Regions from separate parts of the Homo sapiens genome. Here all the other regions are linked to region 2. The links come from fine-mapping of genetic effects on gene expression. A gene starts in region 2. Each other region holds a variant in brackets. All regions are shown on one strand. Distances are from middle to middle. Region 1 overlaps NPRL3 (NPR3 like, GATOR1 complex subunit). Region 2 holds the start of PIGQ (phosphatidylinositol glycan anchor biosynthesis class Q). Region 3 overlaps RAB40C (RAB40C, member RAS oncogene family).

Region 1 (8,173 bases), 480 kb after region 2:
ATGGGCTGGACAGGACTCAGTAAACACCATGTCCTGCCCACCTTCATAGCATTCAGGAGACAGAGAATTTTAAAAGAACTCACCACTCCATACAACCCTGCAGAGTGAGGGAGGCAGTGACCCTCCGTGTCCTGATGAGCACCGACCACATGGTAAATGCCTGTGGCTGTTCACTGGTCCTGTGTTGAGCTTTTGAAAGGAGCTGGGCCTGGCTTTCCTGAGGCTGTCTGGCAGGAGTTTGTGCTGGACACTGTGCCTCTCATCCTTGCTGTCAGAGTCTCCTTGGACAAAGCTTTGATGCCCTCTTCTGAGGTTGTCTGGCAGGAGTTTGTGTGGACAGTGTGCCTCTCACCCTTGCTCTCAGAGTCTCCTTGGACAAAGCTTTGGTCTCCTTTTGATGTCCCCTTCACTTCCCTGCCGTGGCCTTGACTGGGGAGAGGGAAGGCTGTTTGTCATTGTTTTCTTCTGTCTGTACCCCTTCCCTGCTGTCCCTGCTGCAGGTCAGCAGGGCGTTGCTGCTGGTGTGGCGGTGCGGAAGCCCCTGGGGCCCAGCCCTGGTGGGTCACTCTGTTTCCGGAGATAGCCCCCTGGGGAGCACCTGCCTCAGGTGTGAATGTCACCAGATAGTTTAAAGTCCCTCATGTGGCTGGGTGCAGTGGCTCATGCCTGTAATCCCAGCACTTTGGGAGGATGAGGCAGGAGGATTGCCTAAGCCCAGGAGGTCACGACCAGCCTAGGCAACATAGGAAGACCCTGTCTTTACAGAAAATTAAATAATTAGCTGGGCATGGTGGTGTGTGCCCATGGTCCCAGCTACTCAGGAGGCTGAGGTGGGAGGATCACTTGAGCCCTGGTGTTCGAGGCTGCAGTGAATTGTGATTTTACACACTGCAGTCTGGGCAACAGAGCAAGACCCAGTCTCAAAAAATAAAATAAAATAAAATTCTTCATGTTTATATCAATCCAGAGAGAATCTACAAGTAAATTTTGGGTGTGTCATGATAAAATTAGTATGTTACAAGACTTCAAACACTACACAAATTATAGACACAGAAAGTTCCCACAGTCCCATATCCCACAGGTAACCTAGATCCCTCCAGGTTTTTTATCTGTATATATACATTTTATTGTGTGTGTGTGTGTGTGTGTGTGTGTGTGTGTGTATATATATATATATATATATATATACACACACAAACATTTTATTTTGTATTATGAAAATTAGGATCGTGCTGTATATTCGTTGTGATTGGCTGAATAATGGCCCCCACAGATATACACATCCTAATCCCCAAAATCTATGAATGTGAACTCATGTGGGACTTTGGAGATGTTACTAAGTAGAAGATCTTGAGATGGGAAGATCATCCTGTTGAGCTCTAAATGTAATCTCTAAGGCCCTTATCAGAGGGAGGCAGAGGAAGATCTGATAAAAAGAGGCAGCGATGTGGCCACAGAGACAGAGTGGAGTGACGTGACCGCAAGCCAAGAGACACTGGCCGTTGAAGAGGCAGGACGAATTCTCTTCTGGAGCTTCCAGAGGGAGCCTGGTCCTGCTGGCACCTTATGCTTGCCCTTAAGTACTGATTTTGGATTTTCAATTTCCAGAATGGACAGCATCTTGGAGAGGCTGCTGCAGGGAGAGGCAGGAGGTGGAGACCACTATGCTGAGCAGAGCTGGGGGAAAGTGGGGGTGTCTTTTTGAGAGAGACATGCGAGTGGCACGTGGGGTGAGGGAACAGGGCGGTGATGGAGCTGAAACCTGCCATGTCGGGGTTGGCGGAGCCATTGGGGGCACTACTCGCACAATCTTGGCTCACTGCAACCCCCACCTCCCAGGTGCAAGCAATCCTCCTGTCTCAGCCTCCAAGTAGCTGGGACTACAGGCATGTGCCGCAGTGCCTGGCTAATTAAATAAAAATTTTTGGCAGAGATGAGGGTCTCACTATATTGCCCAGGTTGGTCTCGAACTCCGAGGTTCAGGCGATCCTCCTGCCTTGCCCTCCCAAAATGCTGGGACTACAGGCATGAGCCACTCACTCAGTCTGGAGGCCCTGTTTTCTGAGCTGAGGTATAAGTGTCCTCAGCAGCAGGGCAGCACGGTGTCCAGGCAGGGGTGACTCACCTCCACAGAGGCCTACCCGCCAAGAGGGTGGAGTGGTGTCCTGGGCTGATGCAGAGGCAGAAGTGCGAGAGCTTAGGATTTCACACACCTTTTCGTGAAGTGCTGGGGTGCTGTGCTCTCAGACCTCAGGCCTGAGCTTTCCTCTGGAAGGGGTTTGGGTTGTGTTTGTGTTTCCTGATGTTCAAGGGTCCACAAGAGCAAAGCTGGGAGGGGGGTCTCTGTGGGAGTCGGGGCACATGGGGCAGACCTGGGGCCTTTGGGTATGTAGGGGTGGCATGCTGAGTGACTCCACACCCATCATCGGGCAAGGCCATGCTGGAGTTTTAGGGGGTATAAGAGGGCTGTGCCCCTGCCAGGACATCCAGCTAAGCCCCCTGCCCAGCTGGGCCAGCACTGTGTTCCCAGCACCCCAGACATTCCCATGCTTGTGGCCTGAGACCACCATTCTTCAGTGGGAGTCAAGACAGCATAGGATGGGAAAACAGTGCCACCAAACAGCACAGGGAGCAGTGACAAAAAGGCCATTGTGGCCGGGTGCGGTGGCTCATGCCTGTAATCCCAGCACTTTGGAAGGCCAAGGTGGGTGGATCACGAGGTCAGATCGAGACCATCCTGGCCAACATGGTGAAACCCTGTCTCTACTAAAAATACAAAAATTAGCTGGGCGTGGTGGCATGTGCCTGTAATCCCAGCTACTCAGGAGGCTGAGGCAGGAGAATCGCTTGAACCTGGGAGGCAAGAGGTTGCAGTGAGCTGAGATTGTGCCACTGCACTCCAGCCTGGGCGACAGAGCAAGACTGTCTCCAAAAAAAAAAAAAAAAAAACCATTGCTCACAGAAAGTGCTGTGTGCTGGCTGTGCCCCACATCCTAGTGAGAGGTTGCGAAGGTGCTATTCCACGTTAGGGAGGAAGTCTCGGGCCATAGCCACCAGGTGTGTTCTGCATGAGGCTGGGGCCAGCTTCTCCAGGCTGGTAGGCCATGGCCACCCAGGCTGAGAGCTGCTGACAGCTCCCGGTGGGCCAGCCTCAGGCATGGTCCTTGCAGCTTCCCTTTTGCCTGCAGGTTTTCCAGCTTGCAGCTCATCTGGTGTACTGGGGCAAGGCCATCATCATCTACCCGCTGTGTGAGAACAACGTCTACATGCTGTCTCCCAATGCCAGCGTATGTCTGTGAGTGCTGCTGGCTGCCAGAGCCTGGAGCCCCGAGTGGGAAGGGGTGAGGCTGGCAGGGCCCTCCAGATGCTGTTCTCTGTGTTGGCCAGGCACCAAAGGCTGTGGAAGCCCCAAGGCCAGGCTCTCACTTCAGCCTAACTCCTGGCCACTAGCATACCCAGGTCCCAATTCTGGTCTGGCTCTGTGCTCTGTGGCTCTCCTGTGTCCCCCATATGCCTGGCCCCCTCCTCCAGGCTGGCTCTTCTAATCCACCTTGAGGGATCAGAGGTGAGATGCAGGATGAACTGTGC[C/T]CATGGCTCCTGCTGCTGCTCAAGGGGAAGTGCCCAGGCTCTGTCCACCTGGAGGCCTGCCTGGCCTCATACCGTTCTGCCCTCATCGCACTGTCCTGACCCACCTGCCACACTTTGCTTCTCTGCTGCCCACTGAGGCCAGTGTTGAGAACACGGTGGGGGGGTCTGCTGCACTCACTGGCATGCTCACCTGCCTGCAGGTACTCCCCGCTGGCCGAGCAGTTCTCCCACCAGTTCCCATCTCATGACCTGCCGTCCGTTCTTGCCAAGTTCTCCTTGCCGGTCTCCTTGTCAGAATTTAGGAATCCCCTGGCCCCCGCTGTGCAGGAGGTGAGTCACAGAAGCTCAAGGAGCCCAGAGTGGCAGGTGTGTAGTGGATAGGCACTACCTGCCTGGCTGTTGGTTCTGATCTGAGAGCCCTCAGCACTGCCACCTGCTTCTCCTTGGTTTTGGGGGCTTGCCGTGCAAGTGCTACGTGCCCAGCAGGACCCAAAAGTCAGCTGCCGGGCCACCTGCAGATGCTTGGCCAGTGACCCAACACTTGAGCAGTTGTTCCCTCCCCATAGAGCCCACCCTGGCTGTGGCAGGCAGTTTTTAGTGTTAGAACCGAGTTAAGCAGGAGAGTGCTTACCTTTTCTGGGCCTACAGACCTGCCTTGTACCCCTTTGGGACTGGGGACTGCCTACAGATGAGGGTGCAAAGGCAGTTTTGTTCTCACTGGGCCAGGCCTGACCCTCTGAGAGTTCTGCTTCTGTCTTCACTCCCTGCCATGGTTCAGGTGGCCACAGGGTCTGTGGGTATGAGTTCTGGGGTCACTGGTCCCCAGAATCTCCTCATTCAAGAGAGCCTAGAGAGGACCCTAGTGGGCCTGGATCAGGGCAACGGGCAGGCAGGTTGGGAGCTAGGAGTGGCTGGGGGATAGGAGGCCTCCTGCAGGTCTGTGGGATGAACTGGTGCACCTGCATCTGTGGCAGGGCCAGTGGCTTCCCCTGTGGGCTGCAGGTGTCATAGCCTTGTGCTGAGGTGGCTTTGCCATCCTCCCCTCCACTGAGTTCTGGGCAGAGACTCAGAGCAGGGCCAGATAGGATACGGTGTTGGAGACAGACGAGCTGGGTGTTCTCAAGTCTTTGTCTCCAGAAGTATCTGAGTAAGTGCCAGATCTATTAGGCAAAACCAGTCCTTAAAGTTAAACCCTTTCCGTTCTCAAATTACGAATGAGAACGATTCTGGCTTTTCAGCTCCGTTAGACGCTAAACCTGACAGAGCTCTCAGTGCGGTCTTTCACAGAGCCCTTGGTTTCTGGGAGCTGAGCCAGGTTGTACCAGCTGAATAAAAGGCACTCTCTGCACCCCTGCTCTTGGGGCAGTGCTTAGGGAGGAGCTGCTGGTGCTCCCTTCTCAGAGGCCTCCTGTGGTCTAGATAACGGAGTGGCTTTTCCAGGCCATGACTGAGTGGTTGCTCCAGGCCTTGTCAAGGGGCCTAGGTCAGCCAGGTTCTGCCTGGGCTCCAGTGCTGGGAAGCCCCTCTGTTTTATTTTTGGTTTATTGATTTTATTTAATTTTGATTGCACGTCAGGCTGGAGTGCAATGGCATGATCTCGGCTCACTGCAACCTTTGCCTCCCGGGTTCAAGCAATCTCCTGCCTCACCCTCCCGAGTAGCTGGGTTTACAGGTGCCCGCCACCACGCCTGGCTAATTTTTTGTATTTTTAGTAGAGACGGGGTTTCACCGTGTTGACCAGGGTGGTCTCTAACTCCTGACCTCAGGTGATCCACCCACCTCATCCTCTCAAAGTGCTGGGATTACAGGCATGAGCCACTACGCCCAGCTTTTTTTTTATTGTTTTGATATAGAAACTTGCTTTGTTGTCCAGGCTGAAGTACAGTGGCGTGATCTTGGCTCACTGCAACCTCCGCCTCCCAGGTTCAAGTGATTCTCCTGCCTCAGCCTCCCAAGTAGCTGGGATTACAGGTGTGTGCCACCACACCCGGCTAATTTTTGTATCTTTAGTAGAGATGAGGTTTCACTGTGTTGGCAAGGCTGGTCTCGAACTCCTGAGCTCAAGTGATCCACCCGCGTCTGTTTTATTTCTTAAATTCATGTGAAGTCTGGATATCTTGCAGTCCTTTTGACCAAGTCTTCTTACTTGCCTGGGATATATCCCCCATTCCCATCCCCAGTTCCCCAGCCCCCTCCCAGGAGGTGACCCTGGCCAGCAGCTCCTTGTTGACCCTCCCAGAGATGAGTAGACAGATGTGTATCTGAGGACACTGATGTGTCTCACACTCCTTACTGTTCAACGCCTGAGTCTGGGCAGTACTTTCTCATGGGGACTGGACTCTACCTGGCACAAGGCTCCTCACTGCTCCTCACTGCCAGCCCCACCTGCTAACCCAGAGACATTGGAGGGCCTGGCCAGGACGTGCCTTCTCACGGTGGGGGTGGGGGTGGGGTGCTCCACCCCCAAGCCCAGGGTCACTGGCCTCAGCTTTCTTGTGGATCCACTCTTGTGCTCAGGGTGGACTTTCAGGTAGATCCAAGGAGAGGACTTTCTGCTCTCAGGGTACCTGCCCACAGCCTCTTTTTAAACAGTGTCTGGGCTTGTGTGGAGGTGGACTTGCTGGCTGGGTCCAACTCCAGGGCCAGTGGGCCAAAGAAGAGAGGAGGCAGAGGGGCAGCTGCAGCAGCACAGGGTGGGGGGTTTGCTCAGCGAAGCAGTCACAGGGGCCTCCACGTCTCAGGTCCTGCTCCTCAGCCAGATGCTGGGTGGCCCCGGTGTGTGGTGGGAGCCTGTGCAGGTGTGATCCAGATGTTCCCCTGGCCCCTCTCCCTTCCCAGGAGGGTGAGCGGGCCTTGCAGAGCTGGCTGGCAGCTGGGGGCTCCCTTTCTGAGAAGAGGGCCTTTCTGCCTGTGCGTCAGCACAGGGAGCGTGCTGTGGCCATGTCTAGGGCCATGGCTCCCTGATCACCCAGGAGGAAGTTGGAGTGGGGAGGGGGACCAGCCTCACCTGCTGCCACCCGCAGACCCAGCTCATCCAGATGGTGGTGTGGATGCTGCAGCGCCGGCTTCTCATCCAGCTGCACACCTATGTCTGCCTGATGGCCTCACCCAGCGAGGAGGAGCCCCGTCCGCGAGAGGACGACGTCCCCTTCACTGCCCGGGTCGGCGGTCGCAGCCTCAGCACGCCCAACGCCCTCAGCTTTGGCTCCCCAAGTAGGACCCCCAGGGCACCGCTGTGGTAGTCAGGGGAGACGCTTGGGGGTGGCATCCAGGAGGCTCAACGTGGGTGGTGCTGTGAGTGATGAGGGGCCTCCACACAGCTGCACACGCACATGCACGTGCCTCGTGTCCCCCGTGGAGACACCTCTCCTGTCTCCTAGCACCACCGTGACTCTGAGGTGGCAGCTCTGTCTCCGGGCTCTTCAGCAGGCTTGCTAGAATTAGGGGCAGCTCCCAGCCCAGCAAATCAGTGCTGGAATCTCTGCCCCAGCCTGGGAGCAGAGCAGGATCTCATACCACTACCAGGACAGCTGACACCTCTGCGCCCCAGAAGAGCCGTCATGGCCAGTGTGGCTTGAGGGCAGCAGCCTGTTGCCAGGTCCCAGGTCCCCGGTCCCCAGGCTTGGGGAAGGAAGGGGGTGGAAGACTTTGAAAGTCCCCCCTTGGCTGAGGTCTGGCTGTAGGCTTCATGCTTCATGTGAGGACCCCACCTGCCCAGGGTGCTTTGTCCTCCATCCTGGGTGAGGGACAGGATGCCCAGGCCCACCTTGGGGTGTTTGTGGGGCACACATCGCACCTCTGTTCAGGTCCCTTGAGGTTGCCCCCAGAGGGGAGGCTACCCGTTTCCCAAGTCAGCCGTATGAGGGGCGTGTCACACCCAGGAGGTGGGGCAGCAGCGAATGCTTGCAGGCAGATGTACCCTAACCCTTGTAGGAGTTAGGGGTGTCATTGGAGGCTGGCTGCTGGCTCTGCCCTCGCTGTTCCCCTGGGTGTCCTGGAATTCCACTTGGTCACCCTGACCCATGTCCCCCACAGCCAGCAGCGATGACATGACCCTCACCAGCCCCAGCATGGACAACTCCAGCGCAGAGCTACTTCCCAGCGGGGACTCGCCACTGAACCAGAGGATGACGGAGAACCTGCTGGCCAGCCTGTCGGAGCATGAACGCGCAGCCATCCTCAGTGTACCCGCAGCCCAGAACCCTGAGGACCTCCGCATGTTTGCCAGGTGGGTGTAGGTTGACCCGTTGGGACTGGGGCCAGTTGCAGGGTCAGGGCAGAAAGTGGATAGGGACGTACGCAACAGAACCACCAAATCCACTGAGAACAGATGGGGCCCTGTTCGAGATGGAGTCTCTGCATTCAGGTGTGTAGGGGCAGGTGCCACTGCCCAGGCCTGAGGGTTCGGCTTGTCACCAAGACGCCGGGCCATGGGCCTGGCATGCCTATTTTTCGGACTCTTCTCTCTCCAGTACTTCTTAGATGTTCCTTTTCCCTTGAGAGGCAGTGCCAAGTTCTTTTTTTTTTTTTTTTTTTTTGAGACGGAGTCTCGCTCTGTCACCCAGGCCGGACTGCGGACTGCAGT
Region 2 (8,173 bases):
CCTCCCACAAGCCCCTCCCTGGGGGCAGGAAGGACCTGCCTCGTTGCTCAGGGCACACAGGGCTTCGGCCTCCACTCTGACCCCCGCCCACGGTGGCACCCGGCAGTGCCTGGCCCTCCCTGACATCCCCACAGCCACCCCAGGGCAGGGCTCCCTCAGGGAGCATTTTCTCTCCAGGATATATTTCTCCAACGACATGGGTGCCTAGAAACGGGGAGAGAGAGGCTTACAGGTCCCGGAGGTGTGGAGAAACTGCATCCTGCACTCTCAGGCTGAGGGACACCAGCCTTCCAAGGTGGCTGTTGAGTAGGAAGCCACCTGAGCTACCGCGGTTCCCAGGCCCTGGGCCTCTCCTCCCCCTTTCTCACAGGCCCCTGCGGAGCCATGCAGCCAGCTGGGGCTCCTTCTCCACTGATGCCTTCCCTGGCGGGGCCCCACAGGGCAGGAGGACTCCCTAGCGGTGGGGGCACTACTGGCCGGCTGGCTGGGCCGCTCGCCTTCCTCAGACACAGAAAGCCCCATCTCGCCTGCACGAAGAGTGGAGCGGCCACCCTGAGCAGAGACCCCCCACGCTGGAGCCACACTCGAGGGAGGGACATAGCTTGGCCTGAGCCTGGGTCTGGAGGTCCCAGCGCCCACCACGCCCTTAGGGACGAGGGAACAGAGCGGGACGCCTGGAGGTCGCAGTGCCCACCACATCCTTAGGGACGAGGGAACAGAGCGGGACGCCTGGAGGTCCCAGTGCCCACCACATCCTTAGGGACGAGGGAACAGAGCGGGACGCCTGGAGGTCCCAGTGCCCACCACGCCCTTAGGGACGAGGGAACAGAGTGGGATGCCTGGAGGTCTCAGAGCCCACCACGCCCTTAGGGATGAGGGAACAGACCAGGATGCCTGGAGGTCTCAGAGCCCACCACATCCTTAGGGACGAGGGAACAGAGCAGGATGCACACGTCGGGGTGGTGTGACCTGTAAGTCCTCTCCCGAAGCTTGGAGGGGCTCTGGAAGAGGCCTCACACGGAAATGCCTGGGGCTTAAGAGGCCCCTGGTGCAGCTGCTCTCCTCCCCTGCAGGCAGCCCGCACTGGGGCTGGAGGATCCAGTCACTCAAGGCGGTGGGTTCTAGCTGAAAAGGGACCTTCTGGGTCAGGCTGCAGAACTCCTCAAATGCCCATTTCCTCAGTGGTCAGAGAGGGCAGGCGGCGGGTGGATGCCTGGAGGCCAGCTGACGTGAGGCACCAAGGACATCGTGAGAGGGACAAAGTGATTCTGCCTGCAAGGGGCCCAGCGTGTCTGGCTGTGTGACCACCATAGGGGACCACCCAGTACAGCCCACCTTTCACACCAGCTCAGCCCAGGGACCCATCACGCCCTGCTGGGGAAGAGCTTTCACAGGGACTAAGGAAAACTGCCCACAGATATCGTCGGAAAAGAAACACAATGGGTCTAACAGTAAACAGATGTTCTAGGGGGAGCTGGTTCTGCGGTGGGCTCACTTTGGGTAAATTCACCGAGCTACGTGCTCACGATCTGTGCGCTTTCTTTGTGTGTATTCTTTGTGCTTCATCTACAAAGTTTACCTTAAAAAAAAAAAGTGCCTTGTGTCTACCGAAGGAGATGGGAGGGCAGAAGCTACTCTTCTCTGTCGAGTAGTGAGAGAAAACTCAACGTACTGTGGGGCAAACGCCCATCACACTCCCACCTCAGCCTCTGGGACGGTCGGCGGCACAAAGAAGCCTGCACTAGCAGCTGCTGGGATCACACAGCCAGAGGAAGATGAAAGAGAAGCGATCGATAGCAGAGGAGGTATGGGACGGGAGAAAGCAACGTGAGCATCTTTAAAGACTGAGGAAACACACACACACACACACACACACGGGCGCCAGGCTAGCCACACACACACACACACACACACACGGGCACCAGGCTAGCCAGACACACACACACACAGGCGCCAGGCTAGCCAGACACACACACACACACACACACACACACACACAGGCTAACCAGACACACACAGGCTAGCCAGACACAAACACACACACACACACACAGGCTAACCAGACACACACAGGCTAGCCAGACACACACACACGGGCACCAGGCTAGCCACGGGTCCCAGGCTAGCCAGACACACACACACACACGGGCACCAGGCTAGCCATGGTTGCCAGGCTAGCCAGACACACACACACACACGGGCGCCAGGCTAGCCACACACACACACACAGGCTAGCCAGACACACACACACACACACAGGCTAACCAGACACACACAGGCTAGCCAGACACACACACACACACACACGGGCGCCAGGCTAGCCACGGGTGCCAGGCTAGCCAGACACACACACACACACACGGGCACCAGGCTAGCCAGACACACACACACACACACACACACACACACACACACACACACACACACACACACACACACACACACACACGGGCGCCAGGCTAGCCAGAAGAGCTTCCTCTGCTAAGAATGAGCCCGAGTGCTCTTGAGAAGCCATTCCCAGACCAGGCAGGTAGGGAGGTCGACCATATAAAGTAGTAAGACTAAGACTTCCCTCTCCTCCCCGTGAATGAGGGAATGGGGGCACCCCAGCCCAGTTAGGACGGGCCAGGGCCATCTCTGGCTGAGCCGCCCCTCCCTGCCACCGCTCCACAAGAGCTCTGGAGAATTTGCGTTTCCCAGCGCCTTGTTTGAAAAATAAACACCAACCTGGCGCGGTGGCTCACGCCTGTAATCCCAGCACTTTGGGAGGCCGAGGCGGGCGGATCACTTGAGGTCAGGAGCTTAAGACCAGCCTCGATGGGGGTGAAACCAAGTCTCTACTAAAAATACAGAAATTAGCCGGGCGTGGTGGTGGGCACCTGTAATCCCAGCTACTGGGGAGGCTGAGGCAGGAGAATCGCTGGAACCCGGGAGGCAGCGGTTGCAGTGACCCGAGATCGCGCCATTGCACTCCAGCCTGGGCGACAGAGCGAGACTCCCTCTCAAAATAAATAAATAATGAAAAACAAACACGAGTTCAGCCTGGGCAACATGGTGAGACCCCGTCTCAAAACAAACAAACAAACAAACTTGCTTGCCTTCCTCAAGCAGGGCCTTCCCCTCTCATTTGGGAAGAGCCTACGATTCCGTTTTTTGCCCTTTCCTGCAAACCGGGACAACTGCGAAGGGCCCACAGCCAGGCCCGGGCCGCCGACCGCCCTTGCACAGGGTCCACAGGGGCCCAGGTCGGCGCGGGCCCGGGGGCGGCCCCACTTCTGGGAGGAGAAAGCAGCGGCGCCGCGGGCGGGAGTGCGGAGCCCCCAGCCCAGGCCCGGAGCCGCAGGGGCGCTGCCCGAGGTCCCGCCGCGCGCCGCCCACCCCCCCTGCTCACCGGGTGCTTCCGGGGCCGCGCGCTCGGGCGGCGGGGTCCGGATGGGGTTGGGGACCCCGATGGGCGGGCCCGGGCAGACGACGGCGCTCGCTGCCTCCAGCCCCGCCGCGGGACCCGAGCCCCACTTCCGCCGGCTCCGCGCGTTGCCGCGCGACGGTCCGGCCCCCAAAGGCGCCCGGGCTGCCCGCCCGCCCGCCCGACCCGAGCGTTCCGCGGCGCAGCGTGCCCGCCCAGTCCCCAGGCCCGGACCTCCCGAGCCTGCCTCCGGGCCGCCAGCCCCGCGTCAGCTCGGTTTCCTCACCTGAGAAACTGACTGGACCTGGCCTTCGTGGAACCCGGACCCCGCCTGGCTCCCAGCCTCCCCAAGTGAACAGGTCCCCAGGCCCTGCGGGATTCCAGGAAGGCCCCAGCCCCAGCCCGGTCCCGCCCCCGTCACTCTGTTGTCTGCAGAGGGGCCGCCCCCAGATCCCCAAGGCCAGTGGTGCCGGGAATTTTGAGCCCTGGTAGGACCAGCCCAGAGGCTGCCGCCAGCGATCGTCAGGAGAGAACACACAGGCGTCCAGCCCCTCCCGATCCCAGGAACAAGACCCCAGCCCAGACCTCAGCGGCAACTCCGTTTATTGAGCACCTAACTACATTGCGCAGTTAGTCCCCCACCCACAGGACCCAGACATATGAGGGACCTCTCAGGGGGGATGTCCTGTGATACAGGGGAGCCCCACCTCCCCACCCCACAGGGGTAGAGCCAGACACCGTCCCCTCCCAGCTCCCTCCCCCATACAGGCCCTTCCCTGGACCCCAGACCCACGGAGTAACCCAGACGCCTCTCCTTTCACGCCTCATTTCCCCACTTGTAAAATGGGAGGAGAGGGTTAGACCCCTATTTTTTCTCAGTTTTCCAAAGCAGCAGGAGTCTCTCCTTGTAGGAAGCTCCCCCAGACCCTCCCAGCACGGCTGCACTGGGAGGACAAACAGCATGGAGCTGTTTGTCCCTGTCTGCAGAATGAAGGCCCAGACAGCTTTCATTCATGGGGACGCGGAAGAAAAGGCATCCAGGGTTCAGCCAGCCATGGGCCTCCAGACACTCCAGGGTTGCCTCCCCCTTACCTCTGCCAGGCCCAGAGAAGCTACTGGAGGCTCAGGACTCTAGGTCCCTCTGAGGTTGGGGACATTTAGGGGCCACACCCCTGCCCCAGGCCGCCCCGCCCAGCCCAGCCCAGCCACACCCTCCCTGCCTGTCTGCCCCCGATTAGGAGGCCTGGGCAGGGGCACCTGGTGGGAGAGTCTGCCTAGCTGTGTGCCGGCAGCTGGCCCAGGATCTCAAGGCTTCAGCTGCCAGCCCCAAAGTCCAGGCACAGGGCCTGAGGGGGTGTGGGGGGCATGAATGCAGGGGCCAGGGCACTGAATGGGGACAGCAGAGAGCAGCCCTGGCTGGGGAGGCTGCAGGCCTGGCAGGGGCAGCCTGGGAAGCAGACTCAGGGCTGCTCCTGAGATCCGGAGCCTCACCAGCAGGAGAACTCGAGCCAAGCCCAGGGCCCAGCCCAGGTGGTGCTGGCATCAGGCAGGCAATGCCCATAGCCTGGAGGCTCCACCCATCCTGAGGGTTCCTCCCGCGGTGATCCAAGGGCCTGGGAGCTGGCCTCAGGCACAGGAGGGCTGCTCCAACCCAGCCTCAGGTCAGGCCAGCTCCTTGAGGCCCTGGTACACCTTGATGGAGTTGTCCTTGGCATCAGCCACCAGGAGCTGGCCCTGGGGTGCACAGGCCACTCCCAAGGGCTGCCCAAGCCCCTCTGACACCAGGCAGATGGGTGGCCCAGCCCGGGGAAACAGGGTCACCTGGCGCCTCTGCTCGTCTGCCACAATAACATTGCCCTCTGAGTTGGAGCAGATGCCCGCTGGGCAGCCGAAAGTGTGCCCCGTCCAGCCCCCCAGGGAGCCCAGGGGTTGGCGGGCACTGCCAAACAGCCTCACATCCCCAAACTCCTCACTCACAGCAAGGCCCCCATCAGGCCCTGGGCCCACCCAGCAGGGGCCCTCCAGACCCAGCATGGAGGCTGGGGCCAGGGGCTCCCAAGCAGGACCCAACGAGAAGCTGTGCACAGCCCCAGGCAAGTAGTCCGTCACCAGGAGGCGGTTGAGGGCATCCACAGCCAGCCCTCGGGGAGACAGGAAGGTGCCCACTGTCACCCAGTGGCCCCCGGGGTCCCGGGCTGTGTGCTGGAGTGCATGGACAGCCCCATGGATGGGATCGCTGACCACCACAAGCCCTGACGCTGTCACAGCCACGTCCTCTGGAACGAAGGCCCCGCTCCCCGGAGTGCGGCAGGGCAGGAGGCAGATGGGGCGTCCCTCCAGATCTAGCACGTGGACACAGGGTGCAGCCCCGGCCGTGAGGAAGAGCAGGCCATCGGGGGAGCAGTGCAGGCCCCGGGGCCCTCCCACAGCCCCTGCGGGCACCCGGATCCACCCAAGCAGCCGGAGCTGCCGGGAGCCCGTGGAGTCTCCAGGTGGGTCCAGTGTGAGGTGCAGACACCTGGAGGCCAGAGTCCAGTCAGTCCGAATCACCGTCTCAGCTTCTCTGCAGCTGGGTCACGCTTGGGGCTGCAAGAGAGAGAATAAGGCCCCACTGTGTGTGGGAATGGCAAAGTCACTCCTCCAGTTTCTTCCTATGAGGCCGGGTCCTCCTGGTCCTGAGGGTCTACCTGGCCACCAAGCCCAGCGGCCACCCTAGTGTCTAGGTGCCTGGGACTTGAGTCTGGGAGACACATGACCCGTGGAGCTCGCTGTGGGTTTTCCCCTGAGCCCCAGATGAGCTCATGGGCCTCAGACAGATAAGCAACATTTCTCAAATCCATCTGCCTGTGGAACCCCTTTCTACGGCGGGGGGGCGGTCACCCACACACAGCCCTTCTACCCGAGCCCCTAGGTCAGGGAGACTTCTGACCCCTTAGGGGCGAGGCAGCCTATTCCGAGGGCCTCCACCTGCCCCACCGAGAGAGGCCGGGGGGAGGGGTCTCTTACCTGGGCCCTGTCTCGCTGGGCCCTGCTTCGGGGCTGGGTGGCTGCAGCCTCTGTTGTTGGAAACTAGAACTGGAGGAAGTGGGAGGAGCCACTGGCAGGGACGCAGCTGGGCCGGGTGGAGGAGGGAGAGTGCAGTCTCCGGCCTTGGCCCCTGAAGCTTCTATGAAAGAAAAACCAGGTCCCCTGAGGACTCCCCATGCTGTGGTGTTCCTGCCTCCGCGCCTTGTTGCAGGCTGCGCCCTCTGCCCGGACACTATTCCCACGTCCCCTACACGGCCAGATGCCATGCAGCCCACCCCCCTCCAGGGGTCCCCCATGGTCCCCCCACAACCAGCAAGTTCATTACTCCAAGTGGCAAGGCAGCCCCAGGCTGCCACCCCCAAGCAGGGTCCTTGGGTCTGGACCACAGGCGGGTGACCTGCTGGCTGAGGCACCCTCCATGAGGCCTGTCCTGCTCCCCACGGGTGACAGCGAAGGAGGTCGTGTCTCCACACCTGGGAGACGGGTGCTGTTGCCCCCAGCAAGGCCATGCTCACCTGTCTGCTCAGTGGGGGTGAGAAACTGAGGTGCAGTGGACATATGGGGTGCAGTGGACATATGGGGGGCGGGGGCTGAGGACAGGGAGTCTCCCTCAGACTCGGGACTTGGGAACAGTTCCTGGCTGCCCAGAGCCCCCTGCAGCCCCTCCAGGAAGCCTCTGGGTAGAGGGGCCCGGCTGGGACCTGTCCCCACAGCACTCCGCGCCTGGCCAGGCAGCACCCCAGCTCTAGCTGCCCCGAGGCAGGGTCGGGGCTGATGCTATCTCCCTGGTAGTTAATGGGGCCGCTGCCAGCCTGCTTGGACTGGCCCCAGCCCGGCTGGACGCAGGCAGGAACTGCTTCTCCTCCTGGGGGGGCGATGTGGGCTCCAGAGCCCATTCCAGGGTGGGCGTGGAGGGTGTGGCCAGCTCTCCCAGGAGAGAAGTGATTTGCTGTGGGGGTCCCGGGTGCCCCTCCCTGTCTGCCCATCCCCTGCCCGTGGGAGGGCCAAGCCAGGCCCTGCTGGGAGGGAGGCAGTGAGCTGTGAAGGCTGATACCTATCACGGCTGCAGGGGCTGGCAGGGGCCAGCAGAGCCCACGCTGGGTGAGCAGCCTCCAGCCACAGAGCCCCGGGGCCACCGTTTAACCGCAGGAGAGCTGATATGAGCGCGGCCTTGCTGGATTCAGAGGCTAGAGGATGTTCAGGGGTCCGTGCCCACCCCCGACACACCAAGACACAGGCCGAGCAGCCCAGTCCACACGCCTCTCCACCCCCGACACACCAAGACACAGGCCGAGCAGCCCAGTCCACACGGCTCTCCTGGCTCAGCTCCCGTCGCCGATGTCCCGCCCCACCCCCAGACCCCAGCCCCGCGGGGAGGGCCCAGCCCACAGGAGAGGGCCGAGTCTGAAGACAGAGGCCCAGCAGGACTGCTGCCCACCCAGGCCTCCCAGGCCAGGACACTTCCTTAGGGGGGTGTCCAGGTGGCTACACTAGGGCCCCAAAGGAAGGAGGCACAGACGGCGTGTGTGAACAGTTTCTGTTTTAATGTCCACAATTGTGATCAATAAATAACTGTGACCTCCAGTGTCCCTGTGTGGCCCCAGGGACAAGCGTTGGCCACGGCCCGTGGGGGTCTATCCACATGCATGCGGAGGCGGGGCAGGTCCCAGGCAGGTGAGGGGCAGGGGCTGCAGGAGAGGGGCCGGCATGCTGCAGGCAGAGACAGTCAGACCTCAGGCG
Region 3 (8,173 bases), 27 kb before region 2:
CCACCGTGCCCATCCGGCACCAAAGCTCTTTAAAAAAGTCCAACAACAATGTTTTAAACTCGGCAGGTTAGGTGACATCCATTTCTATTACTTACACTTTGCACTTGCTACTATTACTATTATTATGACTACTATTTTGCATATACTCAATTTTTAATAAAGTAATTTAAGAAGCTGACATACTAGCTATCCCTCCCCACCAGGAGGACACAGGCTCTTCAGAGAGATGGCCGTTTCCAGGGCAGGCAGGACCCACATCTGCTGGAAGTACAGACTGTTCCAGGACACAGGGAGCTCCGGGAACTCAGGGCATAGCCCAGGACGCAGGTGCCACCTGAAGAGGCTCCAACATCAAGGGGGCCATGGGAGTCCCAAACCAAACAGGAAAGGAGTATGATGCCACAAGGGAACAAAACTTTGCAAATCCACGCTGACTGATGCCACGAGGGAACAAAACCTTGCGAATCCACGCTGACTGATGCCACGAGGGAACAAAACCTTGCGAATCCACGCTGACTGATGCCACGAGGGAACAAAACCTTGCGAATCCACGCTGACTGATGCCACGAGGGAACAAAACCTTGCGAATCCACGCTGACTGATGCCACGAGGGAACAAAACCTTGCGAATCCACGCTGACTGATGCCACGAGGGAACAAAACCTTGCGAATCCACGCTGACTGATGCCACGAGGGAACAAAACCTTGCGAATCCACGCTGACTGATGCCACGAGGGAACAAAACCTTGCGAATCCACGCTGACTGATGCCACGAGGGAACAAAACCTTGCGAATCCACGCTGACTGATGCCACAAGGGAACAAAACCTTGCTGAATCCACGCTGATTAATGCCACGAGGTAACAAAACCTTGCTGAATCCACGCTGACTGATGCCACGAGGGAACAAAACCTTGCTGAATCCACGCTGACAGTAGCGAACACCCACGGGTGTGCATTTTCACGTACATGCCTATCGACAGAAGCAGCCATGGCAGCAGCGCACACGGAGGAGGCACGGCGTGGCCCCAAGGGAAGCTGCCTCCTCCTTGCTGACCTGGTGAAGTGGGTCCTGCTGGCATCAGCTGACCTGGCGGCTCCTCTCAGGCAGGAATCAGGTGGGCGCAAGACTCTGCGGGCAGCCACTAGGGCTGTGGCCGGCCGACACGGGCAGGCATCAGCCTGACACTGCCTTGGCAGAGCCTGAGGACACAGACACCCCTCGGAGCAAAGCTGGTGGCACAGGCAGAGAAGGGTCTCCTGTCAGTGGCAGCTTCGGCCGGGGCCGGGGCCTGGGCTGTGACCATACTCCCCTCCCCTGCAGCAGTGACTTTCTGGACCGAAACACAGCACCTCGGCAACCCTGATCAGTGTCACTGTGTTTGTGTTCAGAGTCCTGAATCCTGATGTCATCTACCCTATTACCGCCCCTCCCAGCTAGGTCTGACACACAGGCTGTACCTGCTGTGCCCAGGTGGCCGACAACGTTGCTGACCAGGAAGTCAGGCGAAAGCCCAGCAGCAGCCGCCGGCCCCGGGCAGGGAAAGCAGCACACAGGCTCCCACCGGGTTACCCACGCTGCTGGAGCTGCTGGAGAGTGCTGTGCTTGACCGCCCGGCCTACACCTTCACTCAGGGTTGACATGAGGTTCTTACATCCGGCCGCTGTACAAACTGTAAAGTACCTGCCCATTTCCAGGACTCAGCTCTTCTCTTCTTCCATCCTCTTTTCTTTATTTTTTATTTTTTGAGACAGGGTCTCACTCTGTCACCCAGGCTGGAACGTAGTGCAACAGTCAGACTCACTGCAGCCACCACCTCCCAGGCTCCAGTGAGTTTCCCACCTCAGCCTCCCAAGTAATTGGGACTACAGACGTGCACCACCACACCCAGCTAATTTTCTTTTTTCTTTTTTTTTTTTTTTTTTTGTGAGACAGAGTCTCGCTCTGTCACCAAGCTGGAGTGCAGTGGCACAATCTCAGCTCTCTGCAACCTCCGCCACCCAGGTTCAAGCAATTCTCCTGCCTCAGCCTCCCAAGTAGTTGGGGCTACAGGTATGCGCCACCACGCCCGGCTAATTTTTGTATTTGTATTTGTATTTTTTTTTTTTTTTGAGGTGGAGTCTCGCTCTGTCACCCAGGCTGGAGTCAGTGGCGTGATCTCGGCTCACTGCAAGCTCTGCCTCCTGGATTCACGCCATTCTCGTACCTCAGCCTCCCAAGTAGCTGGGACTACAGGTGCCCGCCACCATGCCCAGCTAATTTTTTGTATTTTTATAGAGACAGGGTTTCACCATGTTAGCCAGGATGGTCTTGATCTCCTGACCTCGTGATCCACCTGCCTTGGCCTCCCAAAGTGCTGGGATTACAAGCGTGAGCCACCATGCCTGGCCAATTTTTGTATTTTTAGTAGAGACGGGGTTTCATCATGTTGGCCAGGATGGTCTCAATCTCTTGACCTCGTGATTCACCCACCTTGGCCTCCCAAAGTGCTGGAATTACAGGTGTGAGCCACTGCACCCGGCCTTTTTTTTTTTTTTTTTTTTTTTTTTTGTAGAGATGGGGTCTCACTGTGTTGCCCAGGCTGGCCTCAAACTCCTGGGCTCCAGCACTCCGCCTACCTCGGCCTCCCAAGGTGCTGAGATTGCAGGTGTGAGCCACCGTGCCCAGCCCTCTGCTCTTTTCCAAAGATGCTGAGCTGGGCTGGGCACAGTGGCTCATGCCTGTAATTCCACCAACTTTGGGAAGCTGAGGCGGGCGGATTGCTTGAAGTCAGAAGTTCAAGACCAGCCTGGCCAACACAGCAAAACCTCTGTCTCTACTAAAAATGTAAAAAATTAGCCAGGTGTGGTGGTGCATGCCTGTAATCCCAGCTACTCAGGAGGCCAAGGCAGGAGAATCGCTTGAACCCATGAGGCTCAAGAGGTTGCAGCGAGCCAAGATAGTGCCATCGAACTACACCCTGGGTAACGGAGCAAGACTCTGTCTCAAAAAATAAAAATTAAAAAAAAAAAAAAGATGCTAGATGGCTGTCCCTCTCACAGGATGGGCATGTCTTTCATCAGGGTCAGTTTACACAGCCAGGACCACATCACCCATCCAGGATTCGAATCCTTCCCAGTTTGGTTTGAGGACTGTGTTCACTGTAAAGACGGCGAAGGCTGCTCAGGGGCCGAGTGCTTCTGTTTCCACTCTGCCATCTGGGAATATGGGACCAACTCTTCCCTTCACCCTTTCCACAACTCCAGGCCCCCCAGCACCAAGCCCTCTGTAAGCCATGGTCAGAAGACCCTTCCACATGCCCCTGCCACCACCCACCTCATCACCAGCACTAGAACCTGGCTGCTCCTGAGCCCCTCCCATCCCATCTTGCCTGGACCACCTCCCCCTGCTACCTACATGTGCAGCACCCTGGCGGTGTCTGGTCGTGCCCTGGTCTTCCGCCCCATACCCATGGGTCCCTACCTCTCCACAGCGCCAATGCCCTTGTCCCTCCGCTAATTTCTGAAGGACAAACGTCCAGAAATCTCTGCTTTACTCAAAATCCTGATCTCAGCACGAGACAGCCGCGCACTGCCTGTATCAGAGTGCGCCGCCATCCCCAGGTCGGCTCAGAAGCCTCCTC[G/C]CTACCTTAGGCTCAAAGTGCGAGTCCACCCTGCTGACATCTGTTTACCTTCACTGCCAAGAGGACTGAAGAGGCCCCTCTTCCACCCAGCTCCTGCCCTGAGGATGCCCACAGCCCATGGTCTTGGCAGCCAGTCCTTCTTCCCACAGCTGCTCCTCTTCCCACCGCCTTCGTAACTTCTGGTCCCTGACACCCGCCAGTTCCACAGTCTGCACATCCTTCTCCCGACCGCCCAGGAAGTCAGCTCAGCCTGACAAGCAGTCTCCCCGCCTTCTCACAGTGGTTCGGCAGCGTTCTCCGCACCAGGATGCTGGACGCCGACACCTTTCCCTGCTTACTCCAAACGCCCGGCGGATGACACCCTGGCTGACGTGGCCCCTGGGCCCCAGAACGGCCCTCGGTGGGGTGGCATCGTACCATGTGCTGCGCAGGGGAGGACTCAGCTGTGATGCAACCCCTTCCTGCTCTACGCCAGCTCGCAGGGGCTCCAGACCAGGGTAGGCGGCAGCTTTTCAGGGACCAGCAGCTTCGCGCCTTCTCAGCTGCAATCTTCAAATAGAACAAGAGGCAAAAGTACCTGCGAGGACCCAGATCCCTCCCTTGTGTCCTTCCCGCCCACCTCTCAGCTCCCCGATGTGGCTTCCTTCCTGAAACACTGTTCAATTTAGCTCATCGTGCAGGCCACAACACGTGTGCTCGACACGAGTCATCTGTGTCCACACCACCCTGCGAGAGACCTGGCTGGCACTGCCGTGCACCTGCCATGCAAGCATTTGCCCTGTTGCCTGTGAGCGCTTAGAGCAAGTGCTAAGGACTGGAGGTGGACATTAACTCACTTGTCCAAAAGTTCTGGCATCTGGCCTCTGGACAAACTTAACATTCAATATTCTACCTACTGACTCAACAGTTTCCTGAAAATTTAAGTAAGGCCATGCCAGTCCAACTTATAAAACAGCACAATTAGAGGCCAGGCACAGTGGCTCACCCTTGTAATCCCAGCACTTTGGGAGGCCGAGGAGGGTGGATCACAAGGTCAGCAGTTCAAGACCAGCCTGGCCAACACAGTGAAACCCCATCTCTACTACAAATACAAAAATTAGCTGGGTGTGGTGGCAGGTGGCTGTAATCCCAGCTACTCGGGAGGCTGAGGCAGTAGAATCACTTGAACCCGGGAGGTGGAGCTTGCAGTGAGCCGAGACCGTGCCACTGCACTCCGGCCTGGGCAACAGAGTTAGACTCCGTCTCAAAAAAAAAAAAAAAAAGAAGAAAAAAGTTATAATGACCCACAGAAGTCCTACCTCCTGACCACATGGGTTCTCAGATGCCAGCCAGGGTCATCCCGGGCCTGAGGCGGTCCTCTGAGGCTTGGGTCTCAGGAGAACTTAGTGTGCGCGGTGCAGCAGAAGCAGGTGTGTGGCAGCCGTCCCCAGGCCCAGGTGGACGTGAGGAGGACAGGGGAAGAGCCATGAAGCCCGCTGCTTCACAGGAGGCCTGCAGGGCGGCTCCTCCCGGACCCCAAGCCCACCCCTACAGCTGCCGCCTCCTGAGCCTCAATCCCTCGTCTGCACAGTGGGGGTGGTGCTGCCTTCTCACAGGTGGTGGTGGGGGCTACACGGGGGCAGCGGAAAGCGCCCACCGGTGCTGGCAGGCAACACTCATCACACGCTGGCAGCATTAGCTGTTGCCATGGTGAACACCCCGTTCCTCCCACAACACCACCCTGCTGGAAAACCCGGCACCTCACAGAGGAAAGGCAAACCCCAAAACACTGCCCCAGAAAACGAGCAAAACCCCCGAGGCAGGTGGATCACTTGAGGTCAGGGGTTTGAGACCAGCCTAGCCAACATGGTGAAACCTGCCTCTACTAAAAATACAAAAATTAGCCACGCATGGTGGCAGGCGTCTGTAATCCCAGCTACTCAGGAGGCTGAGACAGGAGAATCACTTGAACCCAGAAGGCAGAGGTTGCAGTGAGCCGAGATCGCGCCACTGCACTCCAGCCTGCGCAAGAGAGTAAGACTTCGTCTAAAAAAAAAAAAAAAAAAAAGGAAGACGAGCAAAACCTAATCAAGTGCAGGGGAGGAGAAGGGACTCTGGGCTGCAGTGGTCAGTGGTGCCCAACACCAACAGTAGGCACAGGGAAGCCACGCACGGCTGTCCAGTCACCTAAAGACACACAGCTAGAACCTCCCACGAAACCCTCAGCTAGCCCTGGGGATAAGCAGCCGACGACACATCAGGACAATGAAACACGGAGGAGCCTCTCAAGATAGTGTCCCCTGGAATTGGCCACTTCGGAGCCACGAACTTCAAGCCAGATGAGAAGAAACGTTTGTAACTGTTTGGAGAAAGCTCAGGGAGTCGTGAAGCCGAAGAAGCTGGGACACCCACACAGGGTGCCCTCGCTCCCATGGGTACAGCAGGCAGCGTGTGGCCCCACAGACATCTCAGTGACCACCAGGCCCCAACATCCACAGCAAACCGTGATGTTAGCCTCGCCATGTCCACAACCGCCTCCCTCCGTTTCTCCCCACAACTTGCCAGGCTCAAAGGACCGGAGTGTCACTCAGCAGCTTCCACCAACACTGAACCCCAAAAGAGCAGAGAGAGAAATAAAGTCAAGCCAGGATTAACCCCTTCTGAAGTCTTCCAGGACCCGGGCACACACACCCTGACCAACGTGGCGGGAGGAAAACTTGCTCCCAGGAAGGTTTGTGGGGACACGGTGCCGAGGGTGGAACTGCCTTAATCCAGGACCTTCGATGCCCCCTGCAGAGCGGGAGCGGCTGGGCTTGGGGAAGGGTGTGCACCCTGTGCGGGTGGTTCCTGGGGGCCAACACGGGCCCACCACCCTGGCCCACACCCTGGAGCCTGACTGCAGGTTCGCTCCTGAACTGCAGCTTTCTCCTCCCCGCCGCGTGCACCACCCACACTCCTGGATGAAGCATAATTCCTGCCGGGTAACTCGCCACCATCACCCAGGGGCACTCTATGCAAAGCGCTCTGTTCCATCCTGAAGAGAGCATGAAGCACTCCCTAAGATCACTGCTGGGTGTCAAAGAAAGGAAAGCCTTTCCAGACCTAGAGATCCAGAAACCCAGCGCACACCCACATTAGGAGACACGGAAGAGCTCACAGGGGCTCCCACAGGTGCTGGGCGTGTGGTCACACGCCACTGCCTCAGGTGCCAGTACTAAGAAAAAGGTCACTTCGATGACTCATTTGTTTGTGAAGCTGGAGAGGGCAATGTACGCTCACACACCTGTCTGAGGAACATGCCAGACAAGACTTCCAGGCAGGTAAGCGATCCGGTGTGAGCTGAAGGAGCTGTGGGCCATGCTGAAGCAGTAAGCCTTGCACAGAAGGGGCCTCCCTGCCAAGGGCACCCACTGCCCAGCAGGCAGCCCTGAAGAAACACGGAAGCTGGAAACACAGAGGGCACCTCCCAACAAAGGAGAGAAAGCAATGGAGGTTAACACGTACGTCCTTCCCACGAGGGCCAGAGGCCTAAAGCTCCTGCTACAACTCTTTCAAAGGAGAATAAATTCTCAAGATGCTGAGTCCTGAGAACCAGCTGCTCCTGAGCTTCTGAGACCCTGAATAGCCCCCTTGGGAAACCCTCAGATCCACCAACTTCACCCTGATGAAGAGGGCTGGCCCCTGAGGTTGGCAAGCTGCCACCTGACCACAAAGACCTGCTCCTTGTGCTGTGCACGTCTTAACCTTGAGACCTTAGACACAGAAAGCGCGTTCCACAGCCCAGAGGCGCTTCCTTCTCTGCTCGAGGCCACAGGACTCCTGCGGGGACCTGGAAGTGTGCCCCGGGCCCTGAGAGCACGTGGTGTCTTTCTAAGAGTGGACTCTCCTCTCTGCCTCTGGTCCAAGCCACTGTGAGCCTCTGAAGTCTCTGCAAGCAGGCAGGTCTCCACGTCTTACACAATACTGGCCCCACTTCAGTGAGCATGTCAGAGGAAGTGTGGCAATGCCCCACAGCCCGACGAAGGGGACAGGGAGGAAGGAGGGTCCTGTCTCTCCAGCTCCTGGCTGTGTGGTGCAGTTGGGTAGGCGAGCTGGCCAGCATGGCTGAGCCGGCCCTCAGAAGCACGCCTTCATGTCCTGGGAAAACACCGATTGATGAAACCCAATCCTTCCCGTGCTCTTCTGAACATGCACAAACACGCACGCCGCCAGCCTCCTGGGAGTGCGCAGCGCCCCTGGAGCCAAGCTTTAGAAGGCAACGCCACCTTCACAATCAACTTGGCCGCCCACCACCTGAGTCAGGAGTTACCAATTCTGGGGCAGTCACTGTCAAGTGCAGGACCAGGAGGCGGCAGGTGCAGGGGCCTAACGTGTGAGCCCCCAATGCCCCAGTGGGCCTTACACTTCCCCCACCTCAAAATGGACACAGAGCTCTTCCTCCCTGGCCCTTTCCAACCCCTCCTCCAGGCTGAAGCCAGGAGCACAAGCTTCCAGAGCCCCCGGTGCTGCTGCCCACTGCTGAAGCCATGCCAGGAGGAAGCGCGCTCAGCCTCAGTCCAGGTAATCCCACGCTC

What was found. PIP is the estimated chance that this variant, and not a neighbour inherited with it, causes the effect.
Region 1: its variant is fine-mapped to the expression of PIGQ in whole blood (TOPMed, PIP 0.93).
Region 3: its variant is fine-mapped to the expression of PIGQ in whole blood (TOPMed, PIP above 0.99).

What each region holds. Positions count from the first base shown.
Region 1 is chr16:88,341-96,513 of GRCh38, reverse strand. It overlaps NPRL3 (NPR3 like, GATOR1 complex subunit), which reads left to right. Exons shown (of 14, transcript NM_001077350.3): 10 at 3,189-3,295; 11 at 3,789-3,918; 12 at 6,612-6,801; 13 at 7,624-7,816. Among named protein-coding and RNA genes, the nearest start is that of MPG, 14 kb to the right of the region's middle. The variant C/T (reference allele first, on the strand shown) is at 3,589.
Region 2 is chr16:565,315-573,487 of GRCh38, reverse strand. PIGQ (phosphatidylinositol glycan anchor biosynthesis class Q) reads right to left here and starts at 3,520. Exons shown (of 11, transcript NM_004204.5): 1 at 3,392-3,520. It overlaps PRR35 (proline rich 35), which reads right to left. Exons shown (of 3, transcript NM_145270.3): 3 at 7,959-8,173. It overlaps NHLRC4 (NHL repeat containing 4), which reads right to left and starts at 6,483. Exons shown (of 2, transcript NM_001301159.2): 1 at 6,413-6,483; 2 at 3,993-6,017. The coding sequence starts at 5,440. The coding sequence ends at 5,069. RefSeq lists enhancers at 1,679-2,573, 6,159-6,208, 6,157-7,052, 7,948-8,173 and silencers at 3,204-3,423, 3,494-3,653.
Region 3 is chr16:592,313-600,485 of GRCh38, reverse strand. All of the region lies in intron 1 of RAB40C (RAB40C, member RAS oncogene family), which reads right to left. Among named protein-coding and RNA genes, the nearest start is that of RAB40C, 6.3 kb to the right of the region's middle. RefSeq lists an enhancer at 404-905. The variant G/C (reference allele first, on the strand shown) is at 3,621.